Homo sapiens: one gene and its partner. The protein of the gene in region 2 interacts with the protein of the main gene of each other region in a pairwise test. Each region holds a gene or a part of one and is shown on either strand. Other genes may lie near its edges.

The links.
Region 1: the proteins of ZNF366 (region 2) and DCLK3 interact in a two-hybrid assay, tested with the Homo sapiens proteins (one study listed by IntAct).

What each region holds. Positions count from the first base shown.
Region 1 is NC_000003.12:36,727,868-36,743,394, forward strand, and holds part of DCLK3 (serine/threonine-protein kinase DCLK3), read right to left. Parts: intron 11,995-15,527; exon of another isoform or gene 11,929-11,994; intron 11,218-11,928; coding exon 9,341-11,217; intron 1-9,340.
Region 2 is NC_000005.10:72,500,063-72,515,673, forward strand, and holds the start of ZNF366 (zinc finger protein 366), read right to left. Parts: upstream 7,349-15,611; 5' UTR 7,189-7,348; intron 1-7,188. UniProt on the Homo sapiens protein: Has transcriptional repression activity. Acts as a corepressor of ESR1; the function seems to involve CTBP1 and histone deacetylases.

The DNA of each region.
Region 1 (15,527 bases), on a different chromosome or scaffold from region 2:
AACAAGCACCTCACATATTTGGCTTCAGAACAGTTCCTATCTTAAACCTTGAAATTAAATGAGTGATGTTGTCCTAGAATAATTCTTCTTCCCAGAATCTGTGGGACATCTGATACCATCAAACTCAAACCTCCACCCAAACAAAAAACGTGTCTCAAACATCCTCCCACCAGACTATCGTTCATGTCTGAATGAAATCTCAAAATGGAAAAGACTCCACAACTCTGTGCTGTAGTGCATCCCATTTATGGCAAGCTTAGCTTGTGAGGAGATTCACCCCTATGTTGATTCAGAATTCCTTTCCCACTCCTGTTTTCTAAATCTGCCCTCTCCAGTGATGCTGAATAAGAACGCATCCCTCCAAAGACGGGAAGCAAGTATCGTGATCCCCAGCTCGCCTCTGGCTTCTCCAAGCTAGCATCTGTGATGATTAATTTTAGATGACAACTTGACTGGATTAAGGAATACCTAGTACTGATAAAGTATCATTGGTGGGGGGTGGGGGGACGGTGTCTGTTAGGTATTTCCAGAGGAGATTGGTGTGTGAATCCAGGTGGACCAAGTGCAGAAGATCTGCCCTCAATATGGATGAGCAGCATCCAGCCGGCTGGGGGCTTGGATAGAACGAAAGTAGGGAAAAGGCAATTGGTGTCTCTCTGTCTCTCTCTCTCTGCACTCCCTCCTCCCCCTCCTCCTGGGACATCAGAACTGCAGGCTTTCTAGCCTTTGGGCTCCAAGACTTATACCAGTAACCCCTGGGTTCTCAGGCCTTCAGACTTGGGCTGAGCCACGCTACTGGTATCCCAGGGTCTCCAGCTTGTGGACAGCCAGTCATGGGACTCCTCAGTCTCCATAATCATGTGAGCCAAGTCCCCTAATAAATCCCCTCTCATACATCTCTATAAACATATATCCTATTGGTTCTGTCTCTCTAGAGAACTCTGGCTAATACAACAACCAAGGATGCTCTGGTGAATCCTTACAGGACCTGTTCTCCTGGTCACCCTCCCTCACTCATCCCTATTCCAAGTGCAGCCCCTGGACCCTGGACCAGCACCATCAGCATCTCCTGTGAGCTGGTTACAGCTCTCAGCTGCCCCAGAGCCCCTGAAACAGAATCTGCATTTCCTCACAACCTCAGAGAGGTCTGTGTCCACAGTAAAGTTCTGGATGGCCCCCATGATGCCTTTCTTAACCAAGAATGCCCAGCACCAAACGCCACACACCAGGTGTGATTCGATCAGAGCAGAGGACCTCAGGACTCTCGGCTGACCAGGCACTGGGTGGTCATCAAGACAGCCAAAGACCCCATCAAATGACCCACTTCAGTGTCCCTGCCTGAGAAAACCTTTCAGGGTTTTCCCGGGTTGTGTGTGTGTGTGGGGGGGGGGGGTACAAAAGCCCCCTTTACACACATCTCACTTTGCCCTCACCCCACATCTCCCTGTATCTCTTTTGCAGCCTAGCTAAACTCGCTGCTCTGGGCCATGTTCTTGCTGGGGCTCATTTTCGGTTGTTCCCTAACTGAAAGGGTGTAAGAGGTTGCTTTACATGGCACTGTAATGACTGTTATCTGTCTGCATCTATCATCCTTTTCCAGCCACACCAAAGTGTCATGCTTGGAATTCAAGTGGTCTACATTATTTACGTAGGCATTCAGATAGCATCTGGATAATCTGAAAGCTTCAAGAAGAATCTTTATTTTTCTGAACAATTAACTCTGCTCTCTCCTTCAATGGTACCTCAATTTAAATGTGATCTTGCAATTCTCATCTCTGAACAGAAGATGGAAGCAGAGTACAGACCAAACAACAAGTGGCTCCCTTAAGGATTAAGACATGGATAAAGTTTATTTATCTTTGCCACCTTCTTACTTGATCCTTCATGGTTTCTCGTACTTTTTCCCTCCAAGGTCCATTTTCAACTGGCTGTGAAGAATGAAATGATCTTAGAAACCAATTCACATTAAAATGCCAATACCTAAAATCCGTTTATATTTCAACGACAGCAAAATATACCATAACACAGGCCAGGTGCAGTGGCTCAGGCCTGTAATTCCAGCACTTTGGGAGGCCAAGGCAGGTGGATCACTTGAGTCCAGGAGTTTGAAGTGAGCCTACACAACATGGCGAAACCTCATCTCTACAAAAAATACCAAAATATTAGCCACGTGTGGTGGTTTATACCTGTGGTCCCAGCTACTTGGGAGGCTAAGGTGGGGGGAGTCTGGAAGGCGGAGGTTGCAGTGAGCTGAGATCACACCACTGCACCCAGCCTGGGTGACAGAGTCAGACTGTCTCAAAATATATGTACATACACCATATATACACACACACACACACACACACACACACACACACAAACACATAAACATACCATAATACAAAAGTATGACTGAAAAAAAAAATCAGTGAGGACAAAGTCTTCCCTGGGACTTGTCACATGGCATGCTCACAAGATAAGATGCTTTTGGTGTCTGTTTATTGCATCTGCTTATTTCTACTTAATTAAAATCTCATGTTCATTCAACAAATATTTACACACTTACCATCTGCCAGGCAGTGTTTGAAATATTAAGAATAAAGTAGTGAAGGAAACAGACAAAGTTCTTTTTCTTATGAAGCCTCCTTTCTATTAATGAACAATATTCAAATAAATATGTAATCTCAGGCAGTGATAAGCGTTATGAAAAAGTAAAAGTGGGATAAGGGCTGCGTTGTCTAGTACAGTATCCACTAAGTACACATGGCTATTGGTTTTTACATGAAACTTAAAATGCAGTTCCTTAGACAGGAGGAACTGCCCATGTGGCTAGAGACTACCACATTGGGCTATGCAGATACAGGAAATCTGTATCTCCATCATCACAGAAAATTCTACTGGCAATGCTGGCACAGTGGCAGGAGTTCTTTTTTTTTTAATAAGGTGGTTAAGGAAGGACTCACTGAGGAAGCAACATCTGAAAGAAGGCAAGGGTGAGCCATATTAAGATGTGAGGAGCAAGTTTTCAGGTAGAAGAAACAGCAAATGTGAAGGCCGAGGGGCATGCATGGTTTGATGTAGCAAGCAGGGGCAGGAGCAGGGCGAGTGAGGAGCTGAATGGCTGGAGAGTGGCTTTGAGAGGAAGATGGAGTCCACATCATATAAGACCTTCCAGGCCATGGAAATGACCTTGGCTTTTATTCTGAATGTGAATGCGAAGGGAAGCTAATGGCAGCTCTGAGCAAAGAAGTCACTGTAATGCACTGTCTTTTTAACCCAGTGTCTGGTCAGAGGTGGCCAGCCCAGCTGATGAAGGAATGGACTTTGGACTGTAGGTGTTTCCTGAACTTGATAGCCTCATATTTCACAGTACACTTTACTTCACCACCTAGTCATCCAATCAGATGATCATCTCAAATTCAACATGCCGGAAACTGATTTCACCTCGACCCTGCTTCTCTCCCACAGTTCCCCAACCCAGAGAATGGCTCCATCATCACATAAAGATGCTGTCATATCTCCCAACTTAAAAAAAAGACAACCCTTATTTTCTCTGCATCCCTCTTTAGCTACTGTCCATTCTATGATCTCCTTCGTGCGTGCACACACACACACACACACACACACACACACCCTTGAAAGAGGTGTCTATACACACTGTCTACAGTATTCCACCTTCCATTCTATCCTAACTCAGTCAGTCTCTTATCCCCATAACTACACAGAAACCACCCTCCTCCATTAGAAAGATGGGGCCACGACTGATCCAGCTTCAGGTCATAAACATCTGTTACCCTTGAGTCTTCTCTTTCCTCATCCACAGCATTCAATCCACTCACAAGTCTTGTCTTTACCCTTAGGATGACCACTTCTCCCCATCTTTACTGCGGTCCCCAAGACCAAGCCACCATCATCTCTTGCTGGGACCATGGCTGCGGACTCCTCACTCCTTCTTTTCTCCCTCCCCTCACATAAACCCTAACATGTGGGACTTCCACAAGATGAACCAGAACCTGAGGGTTTCTGTTGCAATTAGACAACTAGACCTGAGACCTCAGAAACTTGAGATTTACTAAGCTGTTTCCTTAGCTTAAGAGCATTTTCCGAATGCCCTTAAAGACTTTTAAGAAAGTTAATCTTAGACCCTCAAATGGCTCACAAGAATATACTCTTTTAGACAGGTGATAACATACATGAACACAGGGATTAAGCGGACTAAAGGAAGGTGCTGTTATGTTCATTTACCAAATGACCTGAACTTCAGGCCTCCTTGATGAAATGAGGTCACAGTTTTAGAAGATATCCACCAAGTTGATAAATAGGAACCATGCTTTAAAATTGTTTTTGTTGCTGAAAATTTACTACAGACAGTAACTTATTAGACGCCTATCCTTTTAGGTGGATGTTTCGAAAGTAACTTACAGAGGAAAGAAAACCTCAGTCCTCAAGATGATCCAGTATCTATAATTTTGAAGACTTTGAGAAATTTCCTGTAACCTCTGCCTATGTGGCCAAACCCTGGAAATACATAAGTTCACTGAGTGTACAGATACTATTATTGTCCTGGAAATTGCTGAAATGGATACTGAGAGCCTGTCTTACCAATGTAAACCTACAGTCATAACTGCAATGATTTCTGACAAGAATATACCCCGCAGTTCTCCAGAGGAGTTCAATCTCTTACATAACAGCATTCTCACTGACTCGATCAAAATTGGCCAATGACCTAAAGACTTGTGTCACTGTACTTTTTCTTTGGTAATTTCATGTTATTGCTGAAATTCACATTTATTTATTTTATTAAGTAGAGCTTAAGTATACTTCATAGTTGTTACTAGTTTTTTAAATTAATGTGATTGGGGTATAAATGCATTCATGAATACTTGGACTATTAATGAGAAGACATGAATACCTCTGTCTTGGAAGCTAAGGGAAAGGAGATTGAAAATGAAGCTGTTAGAAGAGAAATCTTGCTGATCAAGGAGAATTATGCATTGCAGAACCAGTGACTACCATAGCAATAATCAGTGACTCCTTCTTGTATAGCAAAATAGAAGAGAAAAAGAACTTACAGAATTCAGACCAAGAAAGTGATTGAACAGGTTCATGGTAAAGGGAGAATGAGCAGGAAGTGTGGCCGGCTACTCTTTATCCTTCTGGATTTTCCCTGCCACCCTTAGGGACACCAGTCACTGCCCTGTCCTAGTCATATTCACCAGTAAATATACAGACAAGCCCGTTTCTTCCTAGAACCAGCAGGAGGCCAGAAAGAGGGTACAACCTTTGTCCTTGACCAAGCTGAGACCTGTTCCCACCATCACCACCACCATCTCTCCTGGATTTCAGGGATCTCTGCTCCCAGCACTCCAGGGCTGTAACAGCTAGTCTGGGGGCAGTAGCAGAATTGGAGACATGAACATCCTATATGCTAGTGGAGGTGTAGCAGCATGCCCACCCTGCTCATTCCTTTCCACTCTGTTTCCAGTGCAGGAACACATCCTTCTCTTCCCCTTATTCTGGAAGAAATGTTCTCAAATGACCGTGCTCAATGTTCATGTCTGACACCTCTTCAGTCCCTTCCCCCATCCTGCTCACCCAGCTTTCTTTGCTGGATATAATCTCTCAGCCATCAGCTATAAATAACCTGGCCTTTGCCCTTCCACCCTCTGTGAGCTGGTCTAATCATCATCATCACTACTCCAGCTCCTGTTTGCTTCCCCACTTCCTTCCCCAGAGCCCAGCCAACACCACCCAGCATATTCCAACTCCTCCAAGGAGCACACACTGGCAGAAGCAGCAATTAACACTGGTATTTCTGCAAGCTGGAAATTCTTATAATTAAAACTTCTTTTGTAAGATCTCAGGAGTCTAAATAACCCTAAGGGAAGAAGAGCACCATCATCTTATCAGGAAATGTAATCAGTAGAAATAGATAAACTCAGGAATATAGGCCTAAAATTTTACTCTAGGGCACAATTATCAGATATAAATATTTCTGTTGATTAAAACATGAAAGCTTACTATATTCATTAGGAGCTTTTAGCACATACAGATAGTCTCTAAAAGCAGCAACACTTACAATCAGCCATGTAATCAAAAGTTAGTTCTGACATAATCACTTCCCGAAGCTTAACAAAGACAGGTCTTAATGGACACAGCAGCCATCCATTAAAGGAAGAAACAATTAGTTTGACAATATAAAGCTTATCACAAGTGTAAAACATTAAATTAAAGGCAACTGAAGAACACCAACTTATGGACAGCAGTCACCAATGTGATATTTATGAATATTTTAAATCTTAGAAGGCCAAACAAATTTGCAATGTAATTATATCAGCAACTTTAGAGATAACACCTTGCTAAACCCAGACAATGAGTCAACTGTCAATCCAACATTATCTCTACCTCTGTCTGAAAAACCAAAAAGCGCTGACATCAGATAGCATTTAGACTTCTGACATAACAATATGTTAAACTTTACTCACCCAGAAAAAGGATAAACATGTTTTATAAATGTGCCAGACCTGTCCACTTTGATAAATGCAAGCTGACAAATTATCCACAGGAAAACAAATATATTAACCTATTCCACATAAGATGGCTCAAATATGCAGCTTTCTACAGTTTCTGAAGAAGCCATACCACCACAAAAAAAGTTATTTTATTTGAAATATATATATATGGACTATATACATATATATGTATGTATACACATATACACATATATATATGGACTTTCTTCAAAATCACAAAAAAGAAAGGGTCTACATATCAATTGGGATCAATTCCAATAAACAAAAGCTCATGCATTTAGGCTGAAAAAATTATAACCACTCTGTAGTTTGCCTTCTCTCCCTCTCTTTCTCTCTCTGTCTCTCTCTCTCTCTCACACACACACAATTCCATTGCCCCAGAGCACTAAAACATGCATGTACTGACATTTAAACCATGAAGAACTACCCAGAGGCAAGTAGCTTGTCCATATTAAACATATTCCTTGCTGTTTTCCTACTTCCTCAAACCACCCTCCATGTGATCTATAACAGTGCTGACTTTCTCCATCTCAAAAATAACTGATAAATCCCTTCACACAAATGAGAGCTTCTATTGCCCAAGAGATGGGTGGACTCAACCAACTGGTTCCAGGATCTTGTTAGAAAATGCAAACTAAGCTAACTGTCTCCAAAAGAAAATCATCTCATTCCACATAGCTGAGAACTTGTATAACTGTTTTAATGCTATAGTAGGCACATGACTGAAATGTTCAGCTCGTGGGACCTCCTCAGGCCTCGAAAGGGATCTCTCCTGCTTAGACAATTCGGTGAAAGAAGCAGAGAGTTGTTAAAGAACACTGCTCTGTTGCAATTGCAAAGTGTCCATAATAAAGAGTGTACAGTACATTGCACATGGAAGACATCTGGGCTCAGACCCAAAAGACGGGAAGAATCAAAAAGCGAGTAGAGAAAGGAAAAAGACATCCAGCTAATGCAAAAAATGAAATTGTTCAAAGAGAGTTATTTGATGGTAATTCAGACCCCTCATCCAACCAGTCAAACTGCTTCTGTAATTCTATGAGTTAGGACAAAAACACAAAAACAAGGTTGCTCGACTTAGTGGTCAATGTAGACCTCATTTCACTGGATAATTAGCTTGACTCACTCAGTGTTTCACCTGCTTGTGAGACCAGTTTACAGACAGGCAAATGCAACTGGGATGGTGTCCCCAGGCTGAGTTTACAGCCATGGAAATTAAAGAAAACAGTGTAAATCCCTTCCCCCACCTTCCCAGCTTCCTGCCAAAATATGGCCCATCAAAATCACTGTGCTCATTCACTATTGCTTTGTCTGCAATGATGTGACTTTGAATGCTTACTCATGATACTCACCTTGATATCAGGGTTGTTTTTAATGTAATAATAGTGATAGTCTCTGCCACTGATGGAGTTCTTGCTGTTTCCCAGGCAGCATGGTATGGCCTTTAGGCATTCATACAACTCACATGTATTAAATGTCGACCAAGTGACAGAACTGTTCTAGGTTTGGGAGCACAATCTGAATGAAACAAAGTCCATGCTGTCATGGAACTTTCTCTCCAATAAGAGGAGGGAGACAGAAAGGCAAATATAGACTCTATCAAGTGGTGATTGGGGCGATAAAGAAGAAAGTGGGTGAACGTGCCAGAGGGTGACAGTGTCATCCTGACAAAGACCTCCTGGCACACACTTGTACTCAAACACACTAAGTTTACCGACTCATTGTCATAAGGGAGAACACGTACTGTTGGAATCTGGGAATCAAAGTAAGAGAGTGTTTAAAGGACTCATGATAATATGTGGGCTGTGTTAGATGATTTTGGGGGAGGATTCATGAAAGCAGGGTTTTGCTCTGGGCTGGATAGTGTCAGCACGTGGGGGTAATTCTATAATCAGGTATCTTAATAATTCTTACATGAAGGTAGGAAGGATGAAGCAACGCAGTCAGTCACTCACAGCAGCCACAAAGGGGACATGTGACCTTATATGTGGTTTGGACAATATTCTTATTTTTATCTGCATTTGGACATCAGTATAAAGGGGTTTTGCTTTTGTCTTGATCCATTATGGTCAGAGTGGCCTTATCTGATGTTGTGATCTGTGAAATTGCTTATGCTCAACAGAAGAATGGCATAGCTGAGATAAGGGTGTCAGGCCAGCTCCCAGCTGTCAAGGGTTGCTTTTCTTTTTCCCATACTCAAACTGCAGGCATCCTTCCAAAACAGGCACCATTACCATCTCTCTTTTACAAAATGATGAAACTAAGGTCCAGCAAGATAAAGGACTTATCTAAGAGCAAGCAACTAAGAAAGCCAGGATTCAAACCCAAGTTATCTGACCACAGAGCCAGCCTCATCGGCACTCCTTACACAGACCCTTACAGTGCTGCACCTTTTCACCTTTTGAGCTGCTTAGCAAAGCATTATCTTCAAAAAGACCAAAGTGGCATCTCAGTGGGAGGGTGGATGATGCACACAAAGCCTCGAGGGGAAGCTGCCATCAGTAGGCATCCCAGTACCTAAGTGCCAAGAAATTAAGTCCACGTAGTCACTATCAAGACAAAAGCATTTTTCTCCCAGAGATGAAGAGACATTTTCCATTTTATTTAAATTGGAAGGTTTCTTTTTCTGTAAGTTAATCAAAACTAATTTATCTCAGCAACTTATGACCTATAACCATAGTTTTAAATACTGGAACAAGTATGTTATAATAACATAAAAGTAAAATTCTAGTGTGTAAAGGTGACAGAGTATAAAACAATTAATATCAATTTTATCCCATATTCTAAAAACACCCTCTCCCATATCATCAAAAGTCAAGGCTTACCAAAAGGTTTTCCGGCTTGAGGTCCCGGTGGACAATGCTCTTGTCGTGCATGTGGACGAGGGCTTTGCATAAGTCCATGATCATGAGGGCAGCATCGGGCTCCGGGAACTTCACACTTTCTATGATGGCGTCAAAAAGGTCTCCTCCCTGCACGTACTCCAGGATCAGGTAGATTTCCATGTCTGTTTCGTAGACTTCATGCAATTTCACGATGTTGGGGTGAGAGAGGCTCTGGATGATCAAGATCTCACTGTCCACCATGTCCTCCTTGCCCTTGAGTCTGGACTTGTCAATGATCTTCATCGCATAGGCCTGCCTGGTCTCGCGGTGTCTGCACTCCTTCACGACAGCAAAGTTCCCATCCCCAATGACCCGGCCAGTCTCATAATGCTTTTCCACATTGGCGGCAATGATGCCCATGGGCCGTGGCTTCCGACCGCTGGGCCGCTCTGGCTTGTTCTCTTCTGGCCTCGTCTTGGGCTCCTTTTCTAGCTTTGCAGGTTGGTCATCTCTGAGAGTCATCCTTCTGCCTCCAGACATACATGGCTTTTTCTCCTTCTCTGCCTCCTTCTCTTCTCCTCGGGTCCTGCGGAGCTTCTCAAAGCCCGCCTGGTGCTCTCTCAGGAGCCAGCCACCATGTTTGCTCCTGCTCATGGGCCTGGTGTCCTTCTTCACCTCCCTCAGCCCCTCCTCTGTGACAGGAAGAACTTCCACAAGGTCCTTCTTGGCCTTGGCTGCTCCCTGAGCATGGCTTTCTTGATCCTCTGGGCCTCTGTCCTCTTTCTTGTCCATGCTCTTGCTGGGTCTCCTCAGCTCTTGAGTGGGATTCCTGGGGCTGCTCCTGTGGCTGTCACCCTTCCACCCTTCCTCCCCACTTGCAGGATTTGCCTCGGGAGACCTCCTGCAGCTTCTGGTCCTCACCAGCTTCTCCACATCATACATTGGGCCCTTCCCCATATCCAGCTCACTGGTCCCCAGAGAAAGCCTCTCACGCTCCAGGCTCTGCTGGAGCTCCCTCTCTCTCTTGCACTTCTCGCATCTGATAATTTCACCCGAGGTCTTTTCAATCTCCACCCCAAGATGCTTCTCTCCCCTTGCGTGCCTCTCTTCCAGAGTGGCTTCCCTGGGGGGCTTGCTACTGGGTTCTGGCTCCCATTTCCCCCTCCCCCACTTCTTCTGGGTCCTCGCTCTGTCATCTAGTGAAAGCTCCTCGGGGATCTTCCCCTGGTGCCTCATGGCTGCCTTGCATCCTGCAACTTCGCTGCAGCTCTTGGGGGTCTCGGTCTCCCCACAGCGGTGGTCTCCTTTCAGAGCCTTGCTAAACAGCCTGCTCCTCAGCCTTGGAGAAGGGGCACGGCTGTGCTGGGCCAGTGTCAGGGCCCGGGCTTTGTTGGGGTACAGTTCTTCTACAGCCACCTGAATGCTCTTCAGTGTCAGTGGTTCTTTGCCCATAGCTATGAAAGCATCCCCTTCCCTGAAGAAATCAGAGACGCTCCTGATTTCCCTGCCCTTGAGGTTAAACAGTTTCCTCACACGGTCATTCTTCCATCTGGGAGAGCCCAAGGCTTCTGAGATGTCAGCTAAGAGCTGCTCGAACGTCTGCACTGATCGCCTGTTGAGGAGCAGAGTGATCTTTCGGGGGCGCTGCCCACCCAGCTTCACTACGGTCACGACCCTGGGCTTCAGAGGGCTGTTCTCAGGATGTGCTGAGTGAAGGCCATTCCGAGGGCAGAACAAGGGCACGACGGGGCCACGCGGCCCCAGGAATGGTTTCTCCAGATTCCCTCGGCTGGCAGGCAGCCAGGAGCCTTGCAGCTTCCGCTCTGTGATTCTCGAGCTTAAATATTTTAGAGAATGGTCACATAGGCCTTGCTGTCCTGCAACAAGAAAAGGACAACAGAGTATTAGTTAAGATGGGTTCAGAGAGCCCTCAGCCTTCACCAAAACTTTACTAAAGATGACTGACTCTAGCATTACAGTTTATAAGTGTGGTTCCTGAGAGTCTGTTAGAAATGACAGAGCCTTTATACTTAGGTCTAATTCCCAGTCTCCTCTACACCAGGAGTGCAGAACAGAGTAAGCATTGGGCTTGCAGTGATTCCTGTAGGCCTCACAGGGGCCCCCAGGATGGGCCACACCTCAGGAGCTGATACAGTTTGGCTCTGTGTCCCCACCCAAATCTCATCTTGAATTGTACTCCCATAATTCCCATGTATTGTGGGAGAAACCTAGTGGGAGATAATTGAATCATGGGGGCAGTTTCCCCCATACTGTTCCATGGTAGTGAATAAATCTCATAAGATCTGATGGTTACATCAGGGGTTTCCGCTTTTGCATCTTCCTCATTCTCTCTTTGCCTGCTGCCATCCATGTAAGATGGGACTTGCCCTTCCTTGCCTTCCGCCATGATTGTGAGGCTTCCCCAGCCACGTGGAACTAACTGTAAGTCCAAGAAAACCTTTCTCTGCAAATTGCCCAGTCTCAGGTATGTCTCTATAAGCAGCATGAAAAGGGACTAATACAGGAGCCCTCTCACGGTGAGGCCTGACTCTGTAAACACAACTCCAGCTACCCCAAAGTGAACTGACCTTCAAGGATCTACAGCTGAGATAAAAAGGGCCAGTTTTGCTGCCCATGAAACACCAACAAGAGTCAGGAACATTCTAGAACTTTGAAGGGCCAGGTTTGCTGCCCATGAAACACCAACAAGAGGCAGGAACATTCCAGAATTTTGAAAAACCCAATCTTACCCATCTCTTTGCCAAGAACATTTTTTTTCAGCTTGACTTTGAACTCACTCAAGGTGGAGCAGTATGCGAAGAGGTTATGGTCACAGGATTTGAGACAGATCTGGATTTAAATCCTGGCATGGCCATGGACTGCTTGTGTGAACCTGGACAAATTATTTGCATTTCTTTTTTTTTTTTTTTTTTTTTCATTTATAAAGTAAGAATGCTACACCTCCCTCCCAGGGTTTTTGTGAAGAATAAATGATCAAATTACAACTTACCTAAGAGAGTGCCTGACACATAGTAAGGACATAATAGTTGCTAGTTATTAACACTGTCCTTGTGATCTTAATATCTATTTTATATTATAATTTCACTGTATTAGTAGTATAATCTATCAATAAGGTAGAAGTCTACTGTGCACAGCTTCTTCTGGCATCACAAGAACTCATGGACCCACATGATGTGGTAGGTATTTCTTAAAGCTCTGACTGAGATTCACTTGCATTAGAGTTAGTATAGGAAAATTGAAGAAGGTTTCAATCTAGGTGTAAAAACTTCCTTGTCCAGATGGTTTTCCCTCTTCTTATTTAAAAAATGTAAAGAAACCAAGGTTCAGAGCTTAAATAATGAGAATGTACATGAATAAAACAAGACTTTTGTATTTCCTAATTGACTATACCCAGCCAGAGTAAAACAGGTGAGGCAGGAGTGGTTTAATTTCCTCAATTTCTATCCAGGTCAGGAAGAGAAATTGGAAAAGAACAGAAAGTATAACTCAGTTAAGCCACAATGGTAGGATGACAATTATTAAAGTTACCCTGCAGGACCCATATGTCATATCCTACATGGAAGAATCTGCTGTTTATGCTTCCTTTAAAAAGAAATTTAAAATAATCATTTATACGTGTATTTGAATCAACTGTAGCAGAAACTCCAGTTGTGCCAGGATGAGATTTTGGCCCAGCAAATCTACACAGAATGTTTTTTGTTTTTTAATTATAATGTACAATCTGTTCTGAGATGATTTCCATCTAGACGCAGGTGTCAGATGAGATGACAAGGTAGTGGCTGATACTGATCTTCCCACACACCACAAATTTATGAGCTTAACAATCACATTTACAGTTAAACTACATATGGACATCTGTTATCCCTTTCTTCTCACAGCCTCTTTAATTAATCTGCCTCCATTTTTGTCTGAGATAGCTGATGTTGAGAGAAAGAAAGAGAGCTACAGAAGGAATACTAGTTTGTATTTCCTGCATTGGGGAACTGAGGAAGGGTGTCAGGAAGGTGACTGTCAAACGCATGTGCACAAAAGGGCTGGTGTTCTTGTTGGTTTTTCTTATGTGCTTCACACACAGTAGGATCCTTGATACATACTGTCAGACTAAGTAAATGAAGTCCTGATTATTTTCTCAGAAGACCCTGTATAGGGACAGAGAAAGAGATTTTAGCCTATATCCTGGACTGAGGCTTTTCCAAGCAGATGTGGGAAAAGGATAGGCAGGCCCAAAGGATCAACTGCTGGCTGTGGTCACAAGAGGGCAGACCTACCAGGAAAACCTAGAGGCATAAAGAGGATGTAATGAAATCCAATGGAAGTACCAGGAGAATGAGCAACCAAGAGTGCTAGGAAGACAAGATTTGAGTTGGGTTTTCAACACCTAATGAGGTAGAGGCCACCCAGTACATAGCAAAGGAACCATGACATAGGGCTGGACCAGTTGTCCACACGGCCGCTGAGGTCAGCACAGATGAAGGTAAGACTCAATGTGGAGAGGAAGACACTGGTAACATGGAGAAATGAATGGTCAGCCACTATATGACAGTGGCAAAGCAAGGGTGTATATTGTATCATGGGATGATATAAGCCTCAGCTAAGGAAAGGTGTTATAGGAGGGAAGAAAAATAATAGCTCTGAAGCAGACCTGGGGAGCTAAATTCTGAGCTCTACCTTCAAAATCTATAGTCCCTGGAAAGGAAGAATTATCCATTACAGGGAAGAAATAGGAGAGGGATCCTCAGGGGAGAACCAATAGGACAAAGGAACATTCAGTGAATACCTTAAGGATGTTTGAACATTTAGCATAGAAGGAGGTTCAGGAAAGCCCCTGAACCCTCCTAAAAGGTCCAAGATGGGATGTCAGGGAGGCATAAAGCAGTGTTCATGAAACAGGACTGACAGTAATGGGCTTTATGTATTGAGTGTTGACATAGAGTGACAAAGAGGCCCAAATTACAATAGGACCAGTGGCCTCAAGTTCCCAAACATTGGAACTGTAGAATCTGAGTGTGGTAATGGATGACTTGGCACAATGGTACCCAGAGCTGGGTAGGGAGAAGAGGGGATGTGTTCTCTGGGATTTCTGTGCTCAGCCAATTTCAGCAGACCCTACCTCAAAACTTGCCCTGATCCCTAGTGGTTAGGAGAACAATCTGGGAACATCCCATCCCTGAACAAAGAATAAGCTCCATAAGAACAGCCTCCATCCCAGGGCATGGCGTAAAAGGATGTAAAGAGAGAACAGCTCAGCCTCCATCACACCAACATCAGACATGCTCATTCCACTGCCTGGGCATTCACAAGCTTATTCAAAAGCTCCTTGGTCTGCAGCAAAAGTGACAATTCAGTCTCCACCTCCTCAGCATAACTGGGTCCTACTGAAATTGCACTTCTTCTAGCTATGACTGCTTCAAGCTACTGGGAAGCACCAGGAAAATGCAACCTTCGGATGCACTGATTTTTATCTTCTCTTCCACAAGACCTCTTTCCTCTTTTAAAGTAGTCTAGAGCAAAATTTTCTTCTTTACAGGTAAGAGGAAAAAAATAAGAAGACTATGAATGCCTGGTCCATGGGCAGGGAGAGCAAACAGCAGAAAGAGCACAGCATATCCTTTAGGCCTGGGGCTCAGTCTCCGGGAACGTGCTCATGCCCCAGGACAACTGCACACAGAGTACTTTCAGTCTCCCACTAAGCACCACTGTCCAGAACCTAACCCAATCAACCTTACTAGAAAGCCACAGGCCTGCCCGAGTCCACTCAGCTCCAGCAACACCTTTACTTACAAAATCAGTAAAATGGAACCATATGAAATTGCTGGTAGTTCTACCAATTTTGAACCATAAAAAAACAAATTTCATGTGGCTCACCCTCATACCGGTTGAGTATCCCAAAACCAAAAATACAAAATCTAAAATGCTCCAAAGCCTGCAAACTTTTTGAGCACTGACATTCCTACCAAAGGAAATGATCATTGGAGCATTTCAGACTTCAGATTTTCAGAGCTGGGATGCTCAACTGGTAAGTATAATGCAAATATCCCAAAATCCAAAAAAAAAAAAAAAAACTCCTTGAAATAAAAAAATAAAACAAAATAAAATAAAATAAAATAATAAAAAACCACTTTTGGTCCCAAGCATTTTGGATAAGGGAGACTCACTCAACCTGTAT
Region 2 (15,611 bases):
CTGGGAAGAGGGAGGCGTGTGGACTGGCGTCTCCTCTTTGGCTGTGATGCTGGAGAAGCGGGTCCTCCCTTTCTCCCTGAGGAAGACACAGGGCAGACAGCAAGATTTCTCATCCTTATTCTCAAGCATTCAAAGGAAGAAAGCGGCAGAGTACGTTTTCTTCCTGGAAGAACTCTGCGGTGCCCTAATGTGTGCACTATGGTTTTAAATGTTTTTTTCAAGCTACTGAAAAAAGCTAAACTATTTTTTAGGGTAATCTGCCTGAAATACTCATCACTACCCTCCCTGGGGGCTTCCTTACCCTGAGCCAGCAGCTTGAATAATAAGCAGAGCCTTGGTCCCCTCTTCAGCTTTGTTAGATCTGGGGAAAGGCCTAGAAATCTGCCCCAGGTAACTCTGATGATTGGTGCTCAGAAAGCACCTGAAAATAATACCCTCGCCCTTTCTGAGAGTGCTAGGATCCCATGATATGGAGTTAACTTCATGGGAGAGATCACAGAAATCATGCCTACTGTTGCTCAGAGCTGAATAGATTGGAGACTTGTCCAGTAATGCCACTATTTAATAGGGAGGTATGTTGTCTTGGACAAGGTCAAAGTTAACAAATGGCTTTGTAACTCCTTGGAATAGAGTCCTACATTCCCTGATCAATCTGTGTGCAACAGTCCAAAACCATAAGGCAGTGCTGCTCAGACTTGAATGTGCAACTGGTCACTTGGAGATCTTGTTAAAATGCTGATTCTGATTCAGTTGATCTGCAGTGGAGCTGGGATTTATTCTGCATTTCTAACAAGCTCCTAGGTGGTGCCATGGTGTTGGTCTTTGGACCCCATTTGAAGGCTACTACCTTAAAGGATACATATTTGTTTTAAAGAAATTATTAGCTACAGATGACACTTTTTCCTTATAAGGAAACTGAAAACAAGCAACATTAATTTACTGACCTTGAGCAAATCACGTACTTTCTGTAGTTTATCTGTTAAACAAGGTGGTTGCCTTTCTTCAGCTCTAAGATGAGGAGAATAAGGCACGTACTTGAGAATGGGGTAAGTGAAATGAAGTATCTAAAGTTCTGAGGAGGCCCCAAACCTAGTAATGACTCCTCCATAATTGTTGGCGCTGGTGGTGGCAGTGCCGTTGTTGGTAAATCACTCTCCCATTTAGTATCAGTGGCCATCAAAGAATGAGGTCAGAGTGGGGCCATAATCTATCAAAGGAATATAGGAGAATTGCCCAGTATTCTCTTTGTGTGCCCTGGTACTTGACACTAAAGAGAGATTCTATCAATGTTAATAGAGAGTGCCTTTTCAGTTTCTACTCCAATTAACAGACACCTAGAACCCCAATGTTGTTAAATGTAAAAAGCATCATCCAAAATCCCAACTTTTGTTACTAGGTGTTTAGATTTGCCACTTTAAATTTGCCAAATAAGTATAAAACTGACTCGATCCAGTGGTTTTGGCCTTCTTCAATTGGCTTGAATTAAAGAAAGGAAAGGGTATTGTGCTCAACAAGGGTATCACATTTCTCTCCCTGAATTTACCCCATGGTGTTTTGTCAATTCAGCCCAAGTGGCATTCCTTTAGCTTGGATTCACAGCCTTTGCCTATAACAAACCAGAGAGCTGAACACTTCCTACAAGGCTGGATCCTGGCTCACAGCTCTTTTAGTCAAGGAAAAACAAATGACCGTTCTCTGTCTCGCCAAAAACAATTTGCAAACCCATCATCTGCCCAGAAAATAAATGGAAAATAAAATGCAACAACAGTCTTTTCTGTGTATCTATCTGATAAATGTTAATTTCCCATGAACAAATGGGTGGGGGTGCTTGCCAAGACGACATTTTAATACACATGTAGCAGCCCCATGCACACAACAGCAGAACAAGCCCATATAGTTCCAGTCAATTCAGGTGAGGGATAAATCCATCAAGCTGGCAGTTTGGCATTGTCTAGACTCCAGAAAAGTTTGACTAACTTTTTTTTTTCAAATTAATGGCTTCATTTGGCATTGTATAAAGATAGCATCTTTCATTCTACAGCCCACTGATTCATTAACTCATCTATTTAACAAATATTTATTGTGCATCTATGACAGGCTCTGTGCTATTGTAGGCCCTGGGCAGACAGCAGTGGACAAAACAAAGTCCCTGTCCTCATGCTGCTTCCTTTCTTGTGAACTTATGTATTACACATAACGCTGGATGAAGACATGTTCTTATTCTTTTATGTAAATACCATTGTTTTATGTAAATGTATTTGGTTTTTGAATAGTCTAAAAGAACAGCCTTCATTAGGCTAGTTGTTTCTGAGGGTGCACATTAAAATTATTTGCTGTCTCTATGTTCCTGTCAGAGGGAGATCTGTGTCCATTGCTGCTTTATTTCATTATCCATATAAACATATAAGAAAAAAATGAGTGATTTAGGTAAAAACTCAATCAGGAAATTTAGAACAACTTTTTCTATAAGGTTTATATTTTCCTTATAATTGAAGCATACAATATGACCTGTGAATGCTGATTTTTCAAACACCATTATCAATCTTTTTGCCTTTCTACATCACCATTAAATTAGGGACAAGGATCTAACTTGTAAAATAGGCTCATCACAGCACACGTTGTAAAAAAATAAGAAACAAAACCTTATGAGATAGAATCTACTAATATTTTTTAAAGGGAATAGAAAAAGCTTAGTATCTGTGTTTTTCTTGATTAACAAATACATGCTCACTCTAAGATGCAAATAATATAGAAATGGATAAATCAAAAAGTGCTATTCCACCGGGCGCAGTAGCTCATGCCTGTAATCCCAGCATTTTGGGAGGCCAAGGCAGGTGGATCACTTGAGGTCAGGAGTTCGAGACCAGTGTGACCAACATGGTGAATCCCCATCTCTACTAAAAATACAAAAAATTAGCCAGGCGTGGTGGCGGGCAGCTGTGATCGCAGCTACTCGGGAGGCTGAGACAGGAGAATCACTTGAACCTGGGAGGCGGAGGTTGCAGTGAGCCAAGATTGTGCCACTGTACTCTAGCCTGGGTGACAGAGCCTGACTCTGTCTCAAAAAAAAAGTGCTATTTATATTGATTTATAATGTTTACAGATCTAAGTAATTGATCTTGTGATTTACATATGGTTCTAGAACACTGATCATTATCATCAGATTGCTCAACCGGCTAGGACATTCCTTATTCCATAATACTAATAGCTTCTAAAATAACATTTGATATACTCAGAACTATCTTCTAGAGAGAACATCCAGTGCTGAATAGGAATTCCATTTAAAAGCATGGCTCTTAAAACGAGCATTTACAGTTAATGTTAATGCCATCCAGAAGAAGACGGAGCAAGACACTGACCATCTGTTTTGGAGAATCACAGCATGTCAGCAAAAGGGTCTCACAGATCATCCCATGAAGTGGACAGGGCAGGAGGAGACTATAAACAAGCCCGTAGGTGAATTCTAATACACACACACACACACACACACACACGCACACCTCGAAAATTACTTATTTATCCCATTTTGTCATTTCACAGATGAGAAAATTGAGATCCAAGCAAGTAAAGCAACCTGTCAAGTCATGCATATAGGAAATGCAGAGATTGGATGAGAACAGCAGTGTTCTGACTCCCAATCTGGTCTTTTTCTACTCCACCAAGCCACATGAGAGGGCACCTTTTGCACGTTAGTGCAGAACAACTCAGCTTCGATTTGTCCCTAAGGTTAAGTGTCCAAACATGTCTCTGTTGTTTCACAAGCTCTCAGTCTAACAAAAGGACCTGAATGGCTTTGGTTATTGGTGGTAGATTTTTTGTTATTCTTGCTGTTGTGTGTTTTGCTTTTGGAAAGTGGAGAGAAATTTAACTAAGACCTAAGTAAAAGTATCATTATTACTTGACAAACTAACGGTCATACAGGTTTTAAAGTTTAGAGTGAAAGAAAAATAGCAGTTGGATCAATCAGGCACCACACACACACATGCACACACGCACGCACACACGCACGCACACACACATGCGCGCGCACACACGCGTGCATGCACACACACACGCACACCCATGGTGATATATAGTGTTCTGTTTCTCTGTGTGAAGGTGAGTGGCTCACTGTTACAATGTTTGAGGAGAGAGAACCCCAAGTGTGCTCAGCCCTGGGCAGGAGGAGAATGTGTCACTTTAAGTCCTTTCCTCTTTAGCTGAGTCATGGTACAACCACGATGGTCTCCAAAAAAAGTGTCTCCAGCCCTCCACAACCAGGGAAAAGGTCACCAATAACACAGAGCTCAAGCAGTTGGGGAAGTGGGTGAAAGGGAGAATAAAATGTCCACAATATAACTGAACTCTCTTTGCACGTTCATCTAAGTTGAAAACTTTTATCCCGAGACAAACTTTCCCCTGCATTGAGCTGTGTTGAATACAGCTGCATTCAGTGAAGCTAAATCTGCCATTTCTGCCATTCGTGAAGATGAATATCAATACATTAAACTCTACACTCTTTTATTTTATAAGAATTTAGAATTTAGAATATCTTCACTCAGTGTGTGCCCAACTCTAAAGCTGTGAGGAATAATATCTGCTCTGATAGATCCTTGGTATAGTATTAAGCAAGAATAATGACACAAATTATAGGAGACTCATTCTGTTCTCTGTATTAACAAAATACAGTACTCTTCAGTGTTAATATATGACCCTTAAAAAATATATAACTGACACTGATTGACTCCTACTACTTGCCAAACATTATGTTAAGTGTTTTATGCCGATAGTTGTATTTAATTCTCACAACTCCATTATGTTGACGCAATTTTACATTTGGGGACACTGAGATTTAGAGCAGTTAAGTACCTGCCCCGAGGCCCATAAACAGTAGGCAACGAAGCTGAAATTCAAACCAAAAGTAGTACAACAACAGAGACTGTGCTCTACTCACTCTAATTTGACTCACATCCCAGCACACAGATCTACAGGACACACATCCTAACATAATTTAAAATGTGTATAAGAAATTGTAATTTAGTTATGTGTACAGTTTTGGCAGAAATTAACGAATAAAATACTGTGTGTCTCAAATTCTGGATCACTTCAAACTGGAATTCCCCCAATGATATCACAAAAGAGCCTCTGATGACCCCCAAATAATCACACACTGGAAGTTTCCACAAATGCCAACTCACTCTTTGGCGGTGAGTGAGTAAAGATAGATTGAGTGGTAGTGACTTCGATGAAACTAGTCGATGGCTTTTATTCTTCGGGTAGCTAAAATTCATTTCCCCCAGTATCCAAGAAATATTTTCACAGCAATGACTTAACAACTTAAATGGAAATATTGAATACACTTTTTTCTTTAAAAGAAAACTGCATATCCTCAGCTTCTTAATCTCAAGCCATAGTCATGCTAGCAGTGGGGCTGTTTTCTGAGCCACTGGCCTACCCACCTTGTGCTTTCCTTGTCTTTAATTTAATTGCCTTCCTTGTCTTTAACAAATGACTCTGCTGTCATTTGTTTCCTATTGTGTTGCATCTGATGCTTTTACTCAGTAAACAAAACTAGAATGTGTTCTGTGATGTTGTTTTAGTTGAGCACAAAATTCAATACATTATCAAGAGAAATGAAACTGAAAGGAGCAAGTCAAGATCGCAGACCTGCGTTTTCTTCTGGGGCCACAGTTGCTGATAAATGATGCAATAATGCCCTCGACAATCTATTCCAGCTACCTCTTGATCTGAAGATCTATGGAAATGGAGTAGTTAGGGGAGGTGGTAGGGTAGCAGTAAAACACTTTCAATTGTTATTAGAATAATTTTGCATCCGCAAGCTGGCAAACGCTATTCACGTCTCTTTACATTGCTCGTTTTATGATGCTCCTAAAGAAAATCCTTGAAAAAAGGAGAAGAAAAAAGAGGTCTGACTAATGGAACAAAAGCTACATCACAGTCTAGTTCTGTCATGTTTTCTCATCCTTAGTAAGATGATGGTTCAATTTTGAATAAAGATTAATTACTTGAATGTGGTTAAAGCATAGTCTAGCCAAATTAATTTTTAAAATGAGAGTCCAGCTATTTTTATCTTATTCTTCACATCCCAGGTGATTTCAATCAGTAAATTTCATAGCAGTGAATATTTTTAAAAAGTATGCTTGGCCATTGGCTTTTACCCATTCGGCATCTCTCTGAATTAAAGTATTAATATTGGGAAACATAACGAGTCTCTCGGAGTGACCTTGCTGACCTATTTTTGACAACATGATTTCGGCTCCCTCATGGCTTGCGATGATAGGTGCTGGTAACATTATCCTTTATGACTAATCTAATTGAAGCAAGTTAGACTTTTAAAAACTAGTTGTGTATGTTAGCTTGACTAGCTTGCTACGCCCTATTTGGTGCTTGGAAAACCAGGCACTGGGTGAATGCTTTTCAATTGCGTCTGTAACTTAGTTTTTCCCTCCTACTGACATAAATGATCCATCTTAATCCTCCCATTCTAGCTGCATATTGTTTTCCAAAACTAAAGCTATATGCCCCAAAACCTTTGCCTTCTATCATGTGGCAGATGACATCTTCCACTGACAGTGAATAATAAATTTACACTCAACCCGCATGGGGAACCTGAACACATAAGCTCCCCACATGCAGAACTATTTCCAAGTGACATTCCCTTCTCTCTTTCCCTTCTACTTCAGTGATGCAGAATAACCATCATATAACAATTAACAATCCTCCTTTAGGGGGATGCTGAATGGAAAGAAAAGAACAGGAGAAGGGCACCTCAATCCAGGTAACGTATTAACAAAAACCCCAGAGCAAACCACAGTCCTTAACAGACACCCTGATAAGGCTCCCAGGACACAGTACTGAGGAAGAGCAAATTCTCCAGTGGGACACATCTCACACGCCAGTGGCTCCTGGTTCTCCCAGCCACATGATCTGTGCCAAAATTCAGATTTAACGCAGTGTCCTCTTTAGTCCCAATGTAATTCTATTTCTAGTTTTGCCAGCCTTAGTTCTGCAAAGCATCAGTATTCTCTTACCAAAAAAAAGTATTAGCTGAAATTCTGGGCCATCTATCACTTATACCCTTTGGTTAAGGACTACTCCCAGTAAGGTATTTTCTGTTGAAGATGCCCACAGCAGTATCCACCCAGGAACCTTGAAAAGGAAGCAGAAATGATTGCATGGGTAACTTACCAGCTCCTGAGGTCTGAATGGCTGCAGCAGCCCCACTCCTTTACCTGATCCCTGCTCTCTCTGTCTCTCTCCCTCTCTCTCTCCCTCTTTCTCTTGTGTACAGATTGCAGGGAACTTAAAGAACTCGCAGGGACAGTGTTTCGAATGACTTAAGAAAGAGAACAGGAACAATACTTCGTTCTCTTTTTCTCAGATGAGTACCTTCGGGAAGAAGGAAGGAAGGGAGGGGAGAGGGAGGAAGTCAACAACCCTTTGCTTTCCTGAAAAAAAATAAGGAAACAGAAGATAGACATCTCATTTTCTCTTAAACAAAATGTTGGAAGGGGCAAAAAAAAAAAATCTTTGAAAAAAGGAATTCCTCAAATATGTTCTCTGCCCTGGGAGCTTTAAAGAGATGAAACGCCTTAGTGGCCTGTCCTGTCCAAACAAACGGTGTTCCAGACAGGCAGGCTCTCCTGAGCCTGCAGCCTCTGGTATCTGGTTTGCAGAACTGACACAGCCGAAAGGGAACAAATCATGTCATGTCGACTTAGAGCAAGGGAGAGCTTGGCCTGTTGTGCTAACCAAGGTAAACCTGCAGCCTGTAAGACAGTGTCGGGGCTGGGCAGCCAGGACTCCTGGCTTTTCTTAGGCCCTTTGAAACACCAGCATTGCTGCAATTCCTCGCTGACTCTAGATCCTTAGAGTTTTTCCAGGATCAAATAGCAGATTTATGCCCACCGAACTTTATACAGTGGACCCAATCCAGCTTCCATCACTGATGGATGAAAAAGGAAAAGAAGCAACTAACCACAACTGCTGCCGGCCATGGTTATCTCAGATCTGTTGTTTATATTATTCTATCCTCTACATTCCTAAGGCGTCTTGGATTTAATCACCTCTGGAAAACTGGAAGGAGATTTCTAATTTGTTTTCAAAATACTGTGAAGCAGCATAGGGTTTAGATAAATCAGCCATGGTGTTCGAAAAAAGATAGGGGAGGCAGGAGCAGTTAAAATGGAGGGAGTAACCTTTATCAAGGTAGAAGACTTGGGGCTTCAGCAGGCAGGCATGAGCTTGCTTAGGCTAGTTGCACTTAGGAATAAGCTTGGTTTTAACTTCTCTGATTTGTGTTATGTCTCTTGTGTCCCTTATTCATCTGGTTAGGACCATTTTCACTGTGAACAGGAACCAGCAGTTATGTAGACCTTTGTGGCAGCAAAAGAAAAACCAGCCTTACACTACTTCCTCATTTCACCCAACTGTGAAAAAAATGGGGTGGACAGATACACCTGATTGCAAAGAGTCATGAAAGTGAGTTCAGGGGAAGAATGATTCTGATTCAGTGACCCTGTAAGATTTTGATTGAGTCCTTATTGGCCTATAGGATTATGTTTTTATTCTGACAGATATTTTTCTATCATCTATCTGTCTATCTATCATCTATCTATCTATCTATCTATCTATCATCTATCTATCTAATCTATCCATATATCTATCTATCTCCCTGTCTATCTAGTTATCTGAATATGTGTGCATGTATCAGAGAGAGACATGAAGATTTTGTTACTCGGTAGGTGTGCACAAGCCAGAGCAGAGTCCCATTCCTTGCATCCGCCACAGCACCAACACTGGCACAACCCATGGCACTGAGTTCTGGCCTGGGTGACCCAGCCTCACCAACAGTGGGGAACACGGATGACCAGAGACAGTCTCTTTGGTTCGCTTAGAGCCACACGCCAACACGTTCCTGTCTCCTGATCCCGGCTCTCGGGCTCTTTGCCCTCTGCTGGCCTTCCTCTACATCCTGCCTTTGTAGAAATGGGAAGGGAAATGAAAATGAAAATCTGAGAAAGCCAGGGAAGGGCATGAGGGAATGGAGCAGGAAGGCCTAGGAATGGAGTCTTTTAAAGGGGGAGAAACACTGGGGCAAACCTTTGAGTAACCGGAGGTGAAACAAGCAGGCAGCTGAAATTCACAATAAAAAAGCAGACGTCCTTGGGAGTGAGGTGGGGTGAGGAGAAGCAATAGGGAGGGGGCAAGGTGTGCGGGGCATCAGCAGCAGAGGAAAGGAGGGACCCAAGGAACAAGACGCTCATGGTACCAACTCCTCACAGGCAGGAAACCGCCTCTGATCACTTGAAGAATCCATTGCAGCTGCACACAGGCCTTCCCATATTTTTACTCCTCTTTGCACCCTCAAGGCAAGGCCAGGGCTGAGCCCCAGGAGTCCAGGCAGAATCCAAAGGATTTCCCTTTTAAGTCTGCAGAATGTGGGGACTGTCACGTTGAGGCTGTGTTGTTGTCTCCAGGCCAGCTGACCCGCCCAGACAGCCTGGATGGGGACATGTGCCATTTCAGGCTGCACGGCTTTGACTGAATGGGGCAGCATCCAGTCGGGATCTGACATCATCCCCGCAGCCAGCCAGGGGACTCTCAAGGCTGCCTTGTGCCAAGCTGCTCCATGCTCACACCGCGTTGCAACCCTGCCTGTGAAATTCACAGAAAAGGCTTTTCCCTCTTTCCTTGTGCTGCCAGTCACCTGAACAGTCACCCTCTAAAACTTGTGAAACCACCCACTGGGTGTCAGGAGCAGAAATTCCTAACCCTCCCATTAGGTTTGGCAGGACAGATTTCTGATCAGTCCACTGGAGCTCTAACTCTGTCCTGGCCTATCTGGATCCTGACTAAAAGTGAAGGATCCAACTGAGACGCATGAGCAGGAATGGCATATGGCCTTGGCTCTCACCCCTCAGGAAAGCCCCATGTTGCACAGCGTATCATAGAGATCACTTGAGTAGAGAGAGGAGCTGCCCACCCCTGGGACGAGATAGGAGGACAGGAGAGAAACCTAGGTGAGGACAGTGCTGTGACCCTAACCCTCAGAACCAGCACCACAGAAATAGGTGCTCTACTCAAAATGGCGTCCTGCCTCTGAAGCGTCCTAATTTGTATGGCACCAGCTTCCAATGACACAGACTCTGGGGTTATCTGTTGACTCCCAGACTAACTTGACTTCAGGTCATGGAGGTAGCAGCGTAGGAGAAAATGGAGAAAGGTTTGGAATAGAACATATTCTTCAGAAAAGTACACAAAACGTAAGTGTACCGGTCAGGGAACTTCACAAAAGGAACATATCTGAGTAGCCAGCCCTCAGATTAAGAAAGAGGACAGAGGCCCCCCAAGCCCCTCCTGTCACTACCTCCTCTCAGGTGCCCTGACTTCCAGCACCTGACATGGATGCACATTACCTGGTTTTGAATTTACATGAAAATGGCATTGGCTTGCACTTCATTTGGTTTCTTTGCCTCGATAGTATATTCATGGGATTCGTCCCTATTGTTGAGTGTAGCTGTGGCTCATTCGCTCTCATTGCTGGATAGGGTTTCATTCTGTGAATATACCACCATTTAGATGTCTGTTCTACTTAACACAGACATTGGATTGTTTCTAGTTTGGAGCCATTACAAATGGGCTGCCAGGAATATTCTTGTCCCTGCCAGATGTCTTTTTAGAAGCCTGATGCAGGACTCATCTCTCTCCAGGAAGATTGGCCACTCCAGTGACTCAGTCTTTCTGTTTGGTATCCTTTGGCACTCACTTCCTCTCAAAGGGGATGCATAGCATAGATTTAAAAAAAGAAATCAAATGACTTTGATTTGAGGACACGGCCATGCCTTTGGAGACACTGGCAGAGTTCCTGAGGCGCTTGGGCACTGGTTAGGAGCCACTGTTCTCACTTCCTGCAGCAACCTGGAGATGCTAGTTCCTGCTGCTCTGAGTCATGCTCCAGCGGCTCCCCATCTCCACTACAGATTCGATGGAAAATGTGTCTCTCCTCCCCGCTCTGGGCTTCTCACGAACATGCTGAGTTTTGTTATATGAAAGTGCAGGGGGGATGGCGCAGTCCCCGGCCTGAAACTGCTTTGAAACTTCCTTAGTTTCTTTGATTTATTGTCTTCAACTTGCCAAACCCCCAAAGCCTCCAAGTCCCAACTCTCAAAAATGTGAGAATGTTCATTTCTTTTTTCCTTTTAAATTTTTTTTTAGCATGAAAAGATAATATGAAGGATTCATTTAGACAAGTTATTGAAGAAAGTCTATTTTATGCATCCAGTTTTTTCATATGACAAGTGGGGATAAGAACACATCTATTTTGTACAGTATTTGGAGTAAATAAGAATAGGTTAACATCTTTCACATACTTACCATGTGCCAGACACTTCTAAACACTTCACACATCAAACCAACTTAGTCATCACAACAGTCCTATGAAGTAGGTGCTATTATCGTCCACCATCCCCCTGCCCTTTTTACAGATGAAGGAACTGAGTAATGGAGACATCATACTACCTCCTTGATACCACACAAATAGTAGATTTCAAACCCAGGAAATTCTGGCTCGGAGCCCTAATTTTTAACCACAAAGCTAACATACCTTGCTCTCTAAACTAGCACTGCATGTCGCATAGTAAAAACTAATGACTGCTCCCTAAAATTGGAGAACCACAGGTTTATAATAGACACAAAGGTTCATTGGGCAACCCTTTAATAAGCATGTCTTATGGACCAGGAAGCCCCATGCTAGGTGTGGTTAACGTGCTTCTGGATTTTATTGCCTCGTAGAGGAGAGATACGTTAAATAAATCAAACAAACCATACCTGAATACCTAAACAGTTACCACGGCAGTCAGTGCTCTGAAGATTAAGTCTGGGAGTTACAAGAGCATATAGCAGGGGACCAAATCTGGGCAAGAAGGTCAGGAGGCTCTTCCTGAAAATGGCATGTCAGCTGAGACCTCAAGAATGAGCATGAGTCAGGGAAGATGGTGAGGAGCAGCTCATGCAAGGGCCAGTCAGACAGGTCTGGGTTCAGATTGTGACCTTGATCCTGAGAAGGGTGGGAAATCATTAAAGATTTTACTAAGGGTATAGAATGATCAGGTTTGCATTTCAGAAAGACTATTTTTGGTCACTGTGCAAAGAATGAAGGAGGACAAGAGTGGGAGCAGATGAGCAGCTGTAAAAATCTAGGCTAAGTTCAATCCTGCCAATAGGGCCTATCAAGAGACATAGGTGGGCGTGTTGTAACCACCCAGTGGGTTCACTTTGCCTGCTGCCTAGACAGAGCCCATTTATCAAGACAGGGGAATTGCAGTGGAGAAAGAGTAATTCACACAGAGCTGGCTGTGAGGGAGACTGGAGATTTTTTATTACTCAAATCAGTCTTGCCAAGCATTTGGGGATTGGAGTTTTAAAAGATAATTTGGCGGGTAGGGGCTTGGGAAGTGGGGAGTGCTGATTGGTCAGGTTGGAGATGGAATCACAGGGGGTGGAAGTCAGGTTTTCTTGCTGTCTTCTGTTCCTGGGTGGGATGGCAGAACTGGTTGAGCCAGATTACCAGTCTAGGTGGTGTCAGCTGATCCACCCAGTGCAGGGTCTGCAAACTATCTCAAACACTGATCTTAGGTTGTACAACAGTGATGTTATCCCCAGAAGCAATTTGGGGAGGCTCAGTCTCTTGGAGCCAGAGGCTACATGACCCATAAACTGTAATTTCTAATCTTATAGCTAATTTGTTAGTCCTGCAAAGGTAGACTGGTCCCCAGGCAAGAAGGGGGTCTTTTCCAGAAAGGGCTATTTTCAATTTTGTTTCAGAGTCAAACCATGAACTGAATTCCTTCCCAAAGTTAGTTCAGCCTATGCCCAGGAATGAACAAGGACAGCTTAAAGGTTAGAAGCAAGACGGAGTCAATTAGGTCTGATTTCTTTCACTGTCGTAATTTCCTCAGTTATAATTTTTGCAAAGGCGGTTTCAATGTCAGTGCCTGGAGAGGTCATAGGACAACCAAGTTTGAGAGCTGTGCTCAGATGTTGTATGACAAGAGTCTATTGGAGAATTAATATAGGCAATGCCTGGCCTAAGAATAACTGGCTTATGAAAGCTTCCTACTTTCAAACAGCAACATCTACCATTGCCCTGCCATCCCCAATTTCCAGAGCCTCCAAAGCTGAGTGCCTACCCTCCTTTATTCCACCCCAGCCTCCTGTCTGTTTGCCTTGCCTTGCTGTCATTGTCCCATGTCTAAATTTCTCAATACTCACCCAACAGAGAGCTCCTTTTCCTTTAACACACACCCAGTGCTGTTACCAAAAAGCTAGTGGCATCCTCCAAGCTAGCCCAGGAGTGGTAAGTGGGAGGGATGGAGTAGAACTCAGTGTTTGAACTACTAGCATTGGGGAAAATGTACCCCAGGCGTTCCATGTAGAACCCAGGCTGAAATTTCTAAGAAAACTGTTACACTTTGTAGATTGCTGGTGTTATAACAGAGTTCCAGCACATATGGTTTTAAGAACTAGTCTGGGGATATAGGAAAGAAACTCTCAGTTTTTCCTGCTATGCTTTCACAACACAGAACACTTCTGACACCAGATGTATGAGAGTTTTCCCCACACACCTAGGAATCAACCAATTCTTCAGTAGACACCAGTAGGGTGTCCTAATTCAATTCAGTGTCCACACTATCTACCTAGAGACAGTATCAGATCCCACAAGTTGAGGATTCAGTCCTATGATACTTTCCTCCACTTCAGATGCCAATCAAAAGCCCCAGGTTGTTTCACCTGTACTTCTGACTAATCAGCTATAAATCAGTATGCCCATGACCCCCTCCTCAGGTTCAATTAATTTGCTAGAGTAGCTCACAGAACTCAGGTTACTTACATTTACTAGTTTATTATTAAGGATATTACAAAGGATACCAATGAACACCAGATGAAGAGTTGGATAGGGCAAAATATGGAAGAAGGAGGGCGAAACTTCCATGTCCTCTCTGGGCATGCCATCCAGAAGCTCTCAAACCCAGTCCTTTTGGGTTTTTATGAAAGTTTCATTATATTGGCATGATTGGGTAAGTCATTGGCCATTGATATCAATTTAACCTTCAGCCCCTCTCCCCTTCCTGGAGGTAGGGGGGTGAGGCTGAGAGTCCCAATTCTGTAATTACAACTTGGTCTTTCCTGTGACCAGCCCCCATTCTGAAGCTACCTTGGGCTGCCGGCCACCAGTCAACTCATTAGCATACCAAAAGACACATCATTTTGAAGATTCCAAGGATTTTAGGAGTTGTATGCCAGGAAATGAGGACCAAGGCCAAATATATATTTCACCATATCACAACTGGCTTGCGGACTTAACCACCAAGGAACATGCAGTCTGAGCTCCAAATATCTGGTATGAGCAAACAAACATTTTTAAGTTGGGGAATGGCTGTAGTCATACTACAAGTAAAACAAGTCCTCCTTGTTTACTCTTTTTTTTTTTTTTTTTTTTTTGAGACAGAGTCTCGCTCTGTTGCCCAGGCTGGAGTGCAATGGCACAATCTCAGCTCACTGCAACCTCTGCCTCCCAGGTTCAAGTGATCCTCCTGCCTCAGCCACCACTAGTAGCTGGGATTACAGGCACGTGCCACCATGCACAGCTAATTTTTGTGTTTTTAGTAGAGACAGGGTTTCATCATGTTGGCCAGGCTGGTCTCGAACTCCTGACCTCAGATAATCTGCCTGCCTCAGCCTCCCAAAGTGCTGGGATTACAGGCATGACCTTGTTTATTCTCTCTTGGATTGCTTGCTTTGGGGGTAAATTAGCAGCCATGTCATGAGGATACCCAGGTAACCCATGGAGAGATCCACATGGAGAGAAACGGAGGGCTCCTACTAACAGCCTTTTGAGTGCACTGTCAACTGTGGGTTTATTATTAGGCTAATCATTCTCCAGTATTCATTTCCGTAATTTAGTAAAGCTCACCTTTTCACAGTCTCCTCCAGAGAGGTTGTAAAGCCTTTTCCTCTGCTTGTAGGCTCTCTTCAAGCATTCTAAATGCTTATTTATGTGTCTGTGGCACACCAGGGACAGGAAATAACTTTATTTATTTTTATACATTAAATTAAATATGATTAGAGTTCCCCTCCTTGACAAAGTTGGCTAACAGTTCTATATCATTATTTTTAATGGATCCCACATGGATCCTTCCTTAGGTAGTCCCAGACCTAGGGCTCAGGCAGTTTCAGGAAGACAGCACCGAGCCTTTATCCACGCTGGGTCATTCATGGTCCTCTCAAGGGGGCTGGTTCCCCTGGTGACTCTACACACTCAGTGTCAAGTTCCACCACAAGAATGTCTGCCAAATCTATTTGACTATTGCCTCACGCCCAGATCGCCACAGTTGCCCCTGTCATCTCTACAGTCCTATGCAGGTGTAATGCAAGGTTGCTGCCACTCTAAGAAAACCCACAACGTGTCTCATTTCCCAATCTTCTGGGATTCAACTCACACCAGGGGTCAGGCTTCTTTCTTCAATTCCATTGCCATGTCTTCCAGTCTCATTAAATCTAGATCAGTATTTAGCTCTAAACTCAACTTTTTAAATCATCCAAGCAGGTAA